2 linked regions of the Homo sapiens genome follow. The protein of the gene in region 1 interacts with the protein of each later gene in a pairwise test. Each region holds a gene or a part of one and is shown in the gene's direction. Other genes may lie near its edges.

What was found. Proteins that work in one complex are often made in the same cells at the same time.
Region 2: the proteins of ROR1 (region 1) and PPM1B interact in a two-hybrid assay, tested with the Homo sapiens proteins (one study listed by BioGRID and IntAct).

Annotation. Positions count from the first base shown.
Region 1 is NC_000001.11:64,133,987-64,137,740, forward strand, and holds part of ROR1 (inactive tyrosine-protein kinase transmembrane receptor ROR1 isoform 1 precursor), read left to right. Parts: intron 1-3,382; coding exon 3,383-3,510; intron 3,511-3,754. UniProt on the Homo sapiens protein: Has very low kinase activity in vitro and is unlikely to function as a tyrosine kinase in vivo. Receptor for ligand WNT5A which activate downstream NFkB signaling pathway and may result in the inhibition of WNT3A-mediated signaling.
Region 2 is NC_000002.12:44,171,832-44,175,585, forward strand, and holds part of PPM1B (protein phosphatase 1B), read left to right. Parts: intron 1-3,754.

The DNA of each region.
Region 1 (3,754 bases):
ACCCAGAATGCACCAAAGCTTCTCCACAGCAGAAAGCCCCTCTAAGCAGTGCAAAAACTCCATTGCCAAGCCACTTGGAAAGAAGTTATAGAGTGTGGTTAGAAACACTATTTAGAGCAAATCTAGCTCTTCTACTTGCTGCGTAACTTTGGATAAGTTCTCTATGCTTTCTGAGTCTCACTTTTCTCATCTGTAGAACAGGAATAATTACATCTTTACCTTTTTTTATAAGATTGTTGTTGGGATAAAATGACTTAGTATCTGTTTTGTAAGTATATAAAACTTAGCAGTATCTGATACAGAATCAAGACTCGTTATAAGGTCTCTTTCTCGAGTAGGCTGATTTAACTAAGAGTAGTATTGAAACGCAGAACATAGTTACAGATCTAACAACATGGGATAGTGGCCTCATCTTGAGTTTCAGTTTAAATCCTAGCTCCACCACAGACTGACTTTGTGAATTTGAGCAAGTTACTTAACTTCTCTGAATTTGAGTTTCTCTCTCGTAAAATAAGGATAATAGCTCATCAGGGGCTGCTTTGAAGAAAGCACCTAACACAGTACCCAGCCCAGAGCAGCAGACACTTAATACATGTTTGGTTTTTTTCAGTGTTGTGGTTCTCAACCACATTCAAATCACCTGATAGGTTTCTTTAAGCATAGATACCTAAGCCTCATCCCCAGAGACTATGATTTAATAGGTCTAAGGTGGGGCCTGGGCATTCGTATTTCCTAAAGCTTCTCAAGGAGATTCTTTCATTCTTTTTTTTTTTTTTTTTTGAGATGGAGTCTCACTCTGTCACCCAGGCTGGAGTGAAGTGGCATGATCTTGGCTCACTGCAACCTCCACCTCCTGGGTTCAAGTGATTCTCCTACCTCAGCCCCCTGACTAGCTGGGATTACAGGCACCTGCCACCACACCCAACTAATTTTTGTATTTTTAGTAGAGATGGGGTTTCACCATGTTGACTAGGCTGGTCTTGAACTCCTGACCTCAGATGATCCACCCGTCTCGGCCTCCCAGTGTGCTGCCAAGGCGATTCTCATAAGGAGCCAAGACAGAACCACTCCCCAGCAGATAACAGTACATACTGGTTTTGGGGTTTTTTTGTGTTCTTTTTTAAAAAATCTGTCTCCCAGGAGACTGAACAGGATAGTAGGAATTCTGGGAATAGTCAAAAATTTAATACACCTGCAGTTCTAAGCCTTTGATAAGAAATGTGCAGCCAAGGAATTGCATTCCATTTTATTCTGAAAAAAAGTATTCAAAGAGTCTTTTTAAGAGTCTTGAACTGGAAAGGTGGTAAGAAGTTTAGCCTAAGCCTCACACATAAAATATGGGAACTCCCAGTAGGTTGGGGATTTATATCTGGGGGTAATTCCAGGGTTTTGTCCTCCCAAGAGATATAAATTGAAGCCTTGAGAGTTTAATGTGGGGGAGAAAGAAGTGTTCTCATAATGACACCTTAAAAATCCAGGGCTCTGCTAATGCCTAGGGATAGAAAAGCATCATCTGTAATAGCAGGGGGGTGGCATGGGGGTGTATTCTGGTCTCTGTACTTAGGTTTCCAAGATCCAAGTGTGGGTCATCAAGAACCTTCTTTCTCCCCATAGGTTTATGGTATTAGTTACCCAATAAAAGTTGGGTTAATTTTACAACCCAAGTAAAATTTAAGCCAAAAAGGCTTCAGCATTACTCTAGGATTTATGAAAGTAAACATGTGGAGTGCTTGCAGGATTGTGCAACAGTAAAATTTCAATGTCTTTATGTCAGGTATATGATATATTCATTTGTATGTGTATTTAAAGGTTAAGTTTTTAAGAGCTTTGCAACACAAACTATTTTCAGTACTAAACTGAAGATACTTCCCCCACTTTCACCTTTAAAATGATTCTTTTAATGAATGGGAGTAGAGAGAAGCAGAAAATTAGTGTCCTATCAGGTGATTTTTCCACTTGGTTTGCTCCTATACTTTGACTTTCTAGACTCCTACGCTAGACCTTCAAGCTGGGAAGTGAGCACCACAGCACTAACCGCAGTGCCTCTTACGATGTGGGAGCTTAGTAAATAACTGTCTTTTAAATAAATGTCCCTTTGGTCATTGTAAATACTTTAAGAATAGCCATATATTATCTCTACAATTTAAAAAAGCTTTTACATTATCTGATGGGATCATAATGACTTTCCCATGTAGGGCAGAGAAGTCAGTTACTGTGTCCAACTTGTAGATGAGAAAATTGTGGCTCAGAGGGCTCAGACAGCTTGCCTAAGGATGCCCAAATGTTAAACTCAGGAAGAGAATTTTGTTCTCCTGACTTTGCTCTGAGGGATTTTTACTTAGAAGAAACCAAAGGGGAAAAACGGTGTATTTTTTTTTTTTTTTTTGAGATGATATATTGAGGAGGAGCATCCAGGGTTGAAGTCAACTTATACACGTGGCAGGCAGACTTTGGTTTGGCTATGGTCTGCCTTTGAGAAACAGCTGGATGTTCTGCACTCGAGGGATCTTGTGCTCATCGTAGGCCCTCGTGGGAGATGGTAGCCTCTGCCCTTTCAGGTTGAGCCTGCCATCTTGGGTCTTCATCTCCAGCCTTAGATCTCCAGTCCTTTTACCTGGCACATGAATCATGTCATTTCTGGTGTCCCTCTGTCTTCAAGATGAAATCTATTACCCCTCCTTATAAAAAAAGTCTTATAATTTTGAGGCCGCAAAATTTTAATAAGACTATTTTTTTAAATTGTAGAGAAGCATGAAAGCAAACTTTCCATGGACATTTTCTCTAGATTTCCTTGGATTTAGTGACTCAATTCAAACTCTCCAGACTATGGTTTGCCCTGGTCCTCTTTGGGCAGGGTAGAGATAATGGAGGTTCAGCAGTGAAGAGTCACCTAACTGGGCTACCCTCGGGTTTCTTTCCAGCTGCACCCAGCTTCTCACCCCATGGATCCCCCTAATTGACGTGTCAGTTGGAGTGGATCTGTTCGCCCACGCCTTTGTAGCAAATGAAGCAGAAATAATCTGTGCTTAAAAAACAAAAAACTGTAGAACATGTGCCCAGATTTCCAACTCATTTCCTCTTTACTCCTATAACTACATCATCTTCCAGCCCACCACCAGCTGCGAAAATAAAAGCATTTTCTCCCATATTTAAGGATGATTTTGTGCTTCAGGATGACTTTCTGGGGGTGTAGGAAACTTGACCAATGTGACCAACAGATGTTTTAAGAACTGAGCAAAAGCCCAATTCCTTAGCCCAGTCTTTTGTATATTGTGCCCAACTGTGCCCCCTAGTGACTATTTAGGGTATCGCGCAGTCAGAGCTTGCTGTGCCCTGTATGTATGTGGTGCATCAGCTAATGTCTGTCTATGCTTTCTTTCAGAGATGAGTATGAAGAAGATGGATTCTGTCAGCCATACAGAGGGATTGCATGTGCAAGATTTATTGGCAACCGCACCGTCTATATGGAGTCTTTGCACATGCAAGGGGAAATAGAAAATCAGATCACAGGTAGGTAGCACCAATGAAATTATATTTGTCCCTTGAATAACTATTTTTCTCGCCAAAAGTTTTATTGAGCTCCTCTCTTGACAAAGGATTAAGCTCAGCATGGAGGTTGGGAGCAGGACCATAAAAAAGCATGAGACATGATCTCTGTGCTCTGGAATTTACATTAAAGTAATTTATTGAAGGTTGCTCTTAGAGGAAAAGGAAGCTTTGTGAAATCTCACATTCATTCAAACACTCAATAAAT
Region 2 (3,754 bases), on another chromosome or scaffold:
AAAAAAAAAAAAAAAAAAAAAGCTGTATTTCATGAATATTTTTATATGTAACTATTTTAAAGTATTTTGTGACATTACCTAGCATAGAAAGTAGTTAAGTAGTATAATTCTAACTCTCGCTTTTAAAAATGCAACATACAGTATTTTATATTTTCTGTGAAATATGCCTTTCACAATTCACTGATTTTAGTAAAAATTAGCAAACAAATAACTGGTGGCATCAGAATAATAAAAGTTTGTTTAATCCAAAATTATAATAGCAAAATTTATTCAAGTAATAGCATAAAATGTGAAATCATGATTATGGTAAGATAATTTTCAGGAGTATGATATTCCTGAATTTTCAGTTATTCTTCACACTGTACCTGATTTCTTTTTGTTTTTCCCTTGCTGAATTAATTTCAGAATTGGAATGAAATGGAATACTGCTATTATATTAGCAGCTTTAAAGTTTTATTGTAAAATGTATCGTATATTAGCAGAATTGATGGTTAAGTGTACTGACATTTCACTATGCTATACTCAAACATTGATGGTGAAATAGAGTTTTGGGAACTATTTAATTTTTGTAGTTTGTAGTTGGCTGTCATAAAATTTGCAGAATGACAGAACTGATCATCAGCTTCTAGTGGCTGATCTAACAAGAACAGGTGAAGAAAAAGGTACATGAGCTTCATAATGTGTATTTTTTCTTTGTTTTTGTTGGTGTTTACTTACATCAATACATTGAGTTAAAAAAATGGGTTTTCATCTTTTGGATTAATTTAAGTATGCTAAAGCCATTTTAGAATCTTTACAAGTAAAATGTTTCTAGGCCGGGCACAGTGGCTCACTCCTGTCCCAACATTTTGGGAGGCTGAGGCAGATGGATTGTTTGAGACCAGCCTGGGCAACATAGCAAGACCCTGTCTCTACAAAAAATAAAGTTAGCTGGGCTTGGTGGTGTGTGCACCTGTAGTTAGCTGCTTGGGAGGCTGAGGTGGGAGGATCGCTTGAGCCAGGGAGGTCAAAGCTGCAGCGAGCTGTGATTGCACCAGTTTGCTCCAGCCTGGATGACAGAGTGAAACCACGCCTCTATTTTTTAAAAAATTCTGATGTGACTTAATCTCTTTGTGTCCATTTGATTTGAGATGATTGACACTTTTGAACATTTCCATCCATATTCCTTTTCTTAAAGACTACCTAGAAGACTAACAAGCGTGGCCAGGCGTGGTGGCTCACGCCCATAATCCCAGCACTTTGGGAAGCCAAGGCAGGCAGATCACTTGAGAACAGCCTGGCCTGGCCAACGTGGTAAAACCCAGTCCCTACTAAAAATACAGAATTTAGCCAGGTGTACTGGCCGGCCAAAAAAGACTAACAGACCAGATACTGGAATCAGCGTTATGGTGAAAAGAACCCTTTACTAAATTCTTGATGATGTTACAAAATTTTCCAAAAGTGTAATCTATATAGTGTATTTATTTCTCAGAGTATTTAAAGATTTTGAGATTTAGTTTTTAGTAACATATAACATCCTAGGAAACATAAATACTGTACAATAACTTATATACTTTTTTTCTTTTTAGTTTTCTTTTTTCATTTCTTTTTTGCCCCTCGAGATCTCATACTTCGTAGTTTTCCTTCAAATTACAGGGTGCTTTATTTCTCCCCTTTGGTTTAACTTTAATAACAACCATAAACACTTTACTTCTGAATTAATGGTAAACCATGACACAGAAGAGTGCTTAAATACATTTTTTTCTTTTTGTTTTACTATAACTAATCACATCTACAATATCTTGTTATTGCTTGGCATAACATATACCTTTTATAATAATACTCTTCATGGCCGGGCACAGTGGCTCATGCCTGTAATCCCAGTACTTTGGGAGCCCGAGGTTGGTGAATCACTTGAGGTCAGGAGTTCGAGACTAGCCTGGCCAACATGATGAAACCCTGTCTTTACCAAAAAATACAAAAATTAGCCGGGTGTGGTGGCACATGCCTGTAGTCCCAGCTACCCCGGAGGCTGTGGTGGAGAATTGCTTGTACCCGAGAGGTGAAGGTTGTAGTAAGCCAAGATCACGCCACTGCACTCCAGATTGGGCGAAAGAGTGAGACCCTGTCTCGAAACAAAAATAATAATACTCTTTGTAATAACTTGTTTAACCTCAAGAACCTTGTAGCTTAATCAATTGTAGTATTTTAATTTGTTAGTTCATATATTATACATTTGACATGGTTTATAACATTTAAAACACACTTTACTAATTTAAAACTTTTGATTTATCACACAGTTTAATATTAACTTGTAAATATAAAATGGATTCAAACTTTTCTCTTGGAGAATGTTTAAGTATCATCAGTATTCTATTTTTTAGCTTTAAATTGATTCATTTCTTGAAAATTAAAAATCTTAAAGTTTAGAAACATAACACTTCTTGGAAAATTGTTTTGCATCCTTGTGAACAAAAGAAGATCCAGTTAAATCCGATCTCATACTTAGAGGAGACAGACAAACTTTGGAAGCCATGTATTGACTATTAAGGAACTTGTCTTTCTCTTAGAGATGGTACCAATTACTGGTAGTGATATAGGGAGGATAAGACTTGTCTCTAGGATTGCTGTGATTATTGTCTACGTAGAATGGCCTTCACTTCAGAATCAGTTGTGAATGAAAAGTACATTTGTGTGCTAGAAATAGGAAAAAACCTTGTCTTTTATAGAAAACTTTTAAAATGCAGTTATGTTATCAGGTAGATTCAAACGTATAATATACAAGAAAATAAAACAAATGAATAAGTGTTGTTTGCCAGAGAAGAAGCAGTTCTGATCAATAATATGTAGAGTAATTTGTAAGAGTTTGAAGGCTTGCGAAGCGCTTTTAAGCCTGAGAGTAATGTCAACTCATTTTTAAATCTAATCGCATTTTATTTTCTTGATTGTAGGTATCAAGAGCACTCCTCGCATTGAAAAGGGCTGGTTACTGGATGTTCTTATGAGTAGGAGAATCTAGAAGTGTCAGCATGGGTGTTTAACCTATTTGGGCAGTGTTTTTCCTTTTCCTTGTTCTGACTAAAGCATTTATCTCTGAGGTGGGGAAATGGCATTTTCTGTTGAACACAGGTGGCCTTTCTTAGTCCCTTAAAAAGAGGACATGACTGGGCCTGGTGGCTCACGCCTATAATCCTAGCACTTTGGGAGGCCGAGGTGGGCGGATTGTCTGAGCTCAGGAGTTCGAGACCAGCCTGGCAGCACGGTGAAACCCCATCTCTACTAAAATACAGAAAATTAGCTGGGTGTGGCGGCATGTGCCTGTAATCCTAGCTACTCAGGAGGCTGAGACAGGAGAATCGCTTGAACCCAGGAGGTGGAGGTTCAACCCAGCTGAAATCGCGCCACTGCATTCCAGCCTGGGCAAAAGTGAGACTCCGTCTCAAAAAAAACAAAAGTGGGGGTGGGGGAACATAATTAATTCAAAGCACTCCAAATGTTAAGATTATATAGGAGATTTTGTTGAGCTTTGGGAGGCTTTCTGCTTTTATTTACTCTGAGCTACCAACCCACTGAGAAGTAAAGAATTCAGAACAGTCTAATAGTATTTAGTCTGTAACCCTCCAGCCAATTCTTATGTTCACTGAGTGCCTTCTGTGTGCAAAGGCCCCCATTTCATGCCAGTATCTGAACAAAACAGACAAAATCCCAAATCCTTGTCGTTGACGATCTTGCATTCTGTTAACCAGCAACTCACAGTTTACATTACAGCTGAACT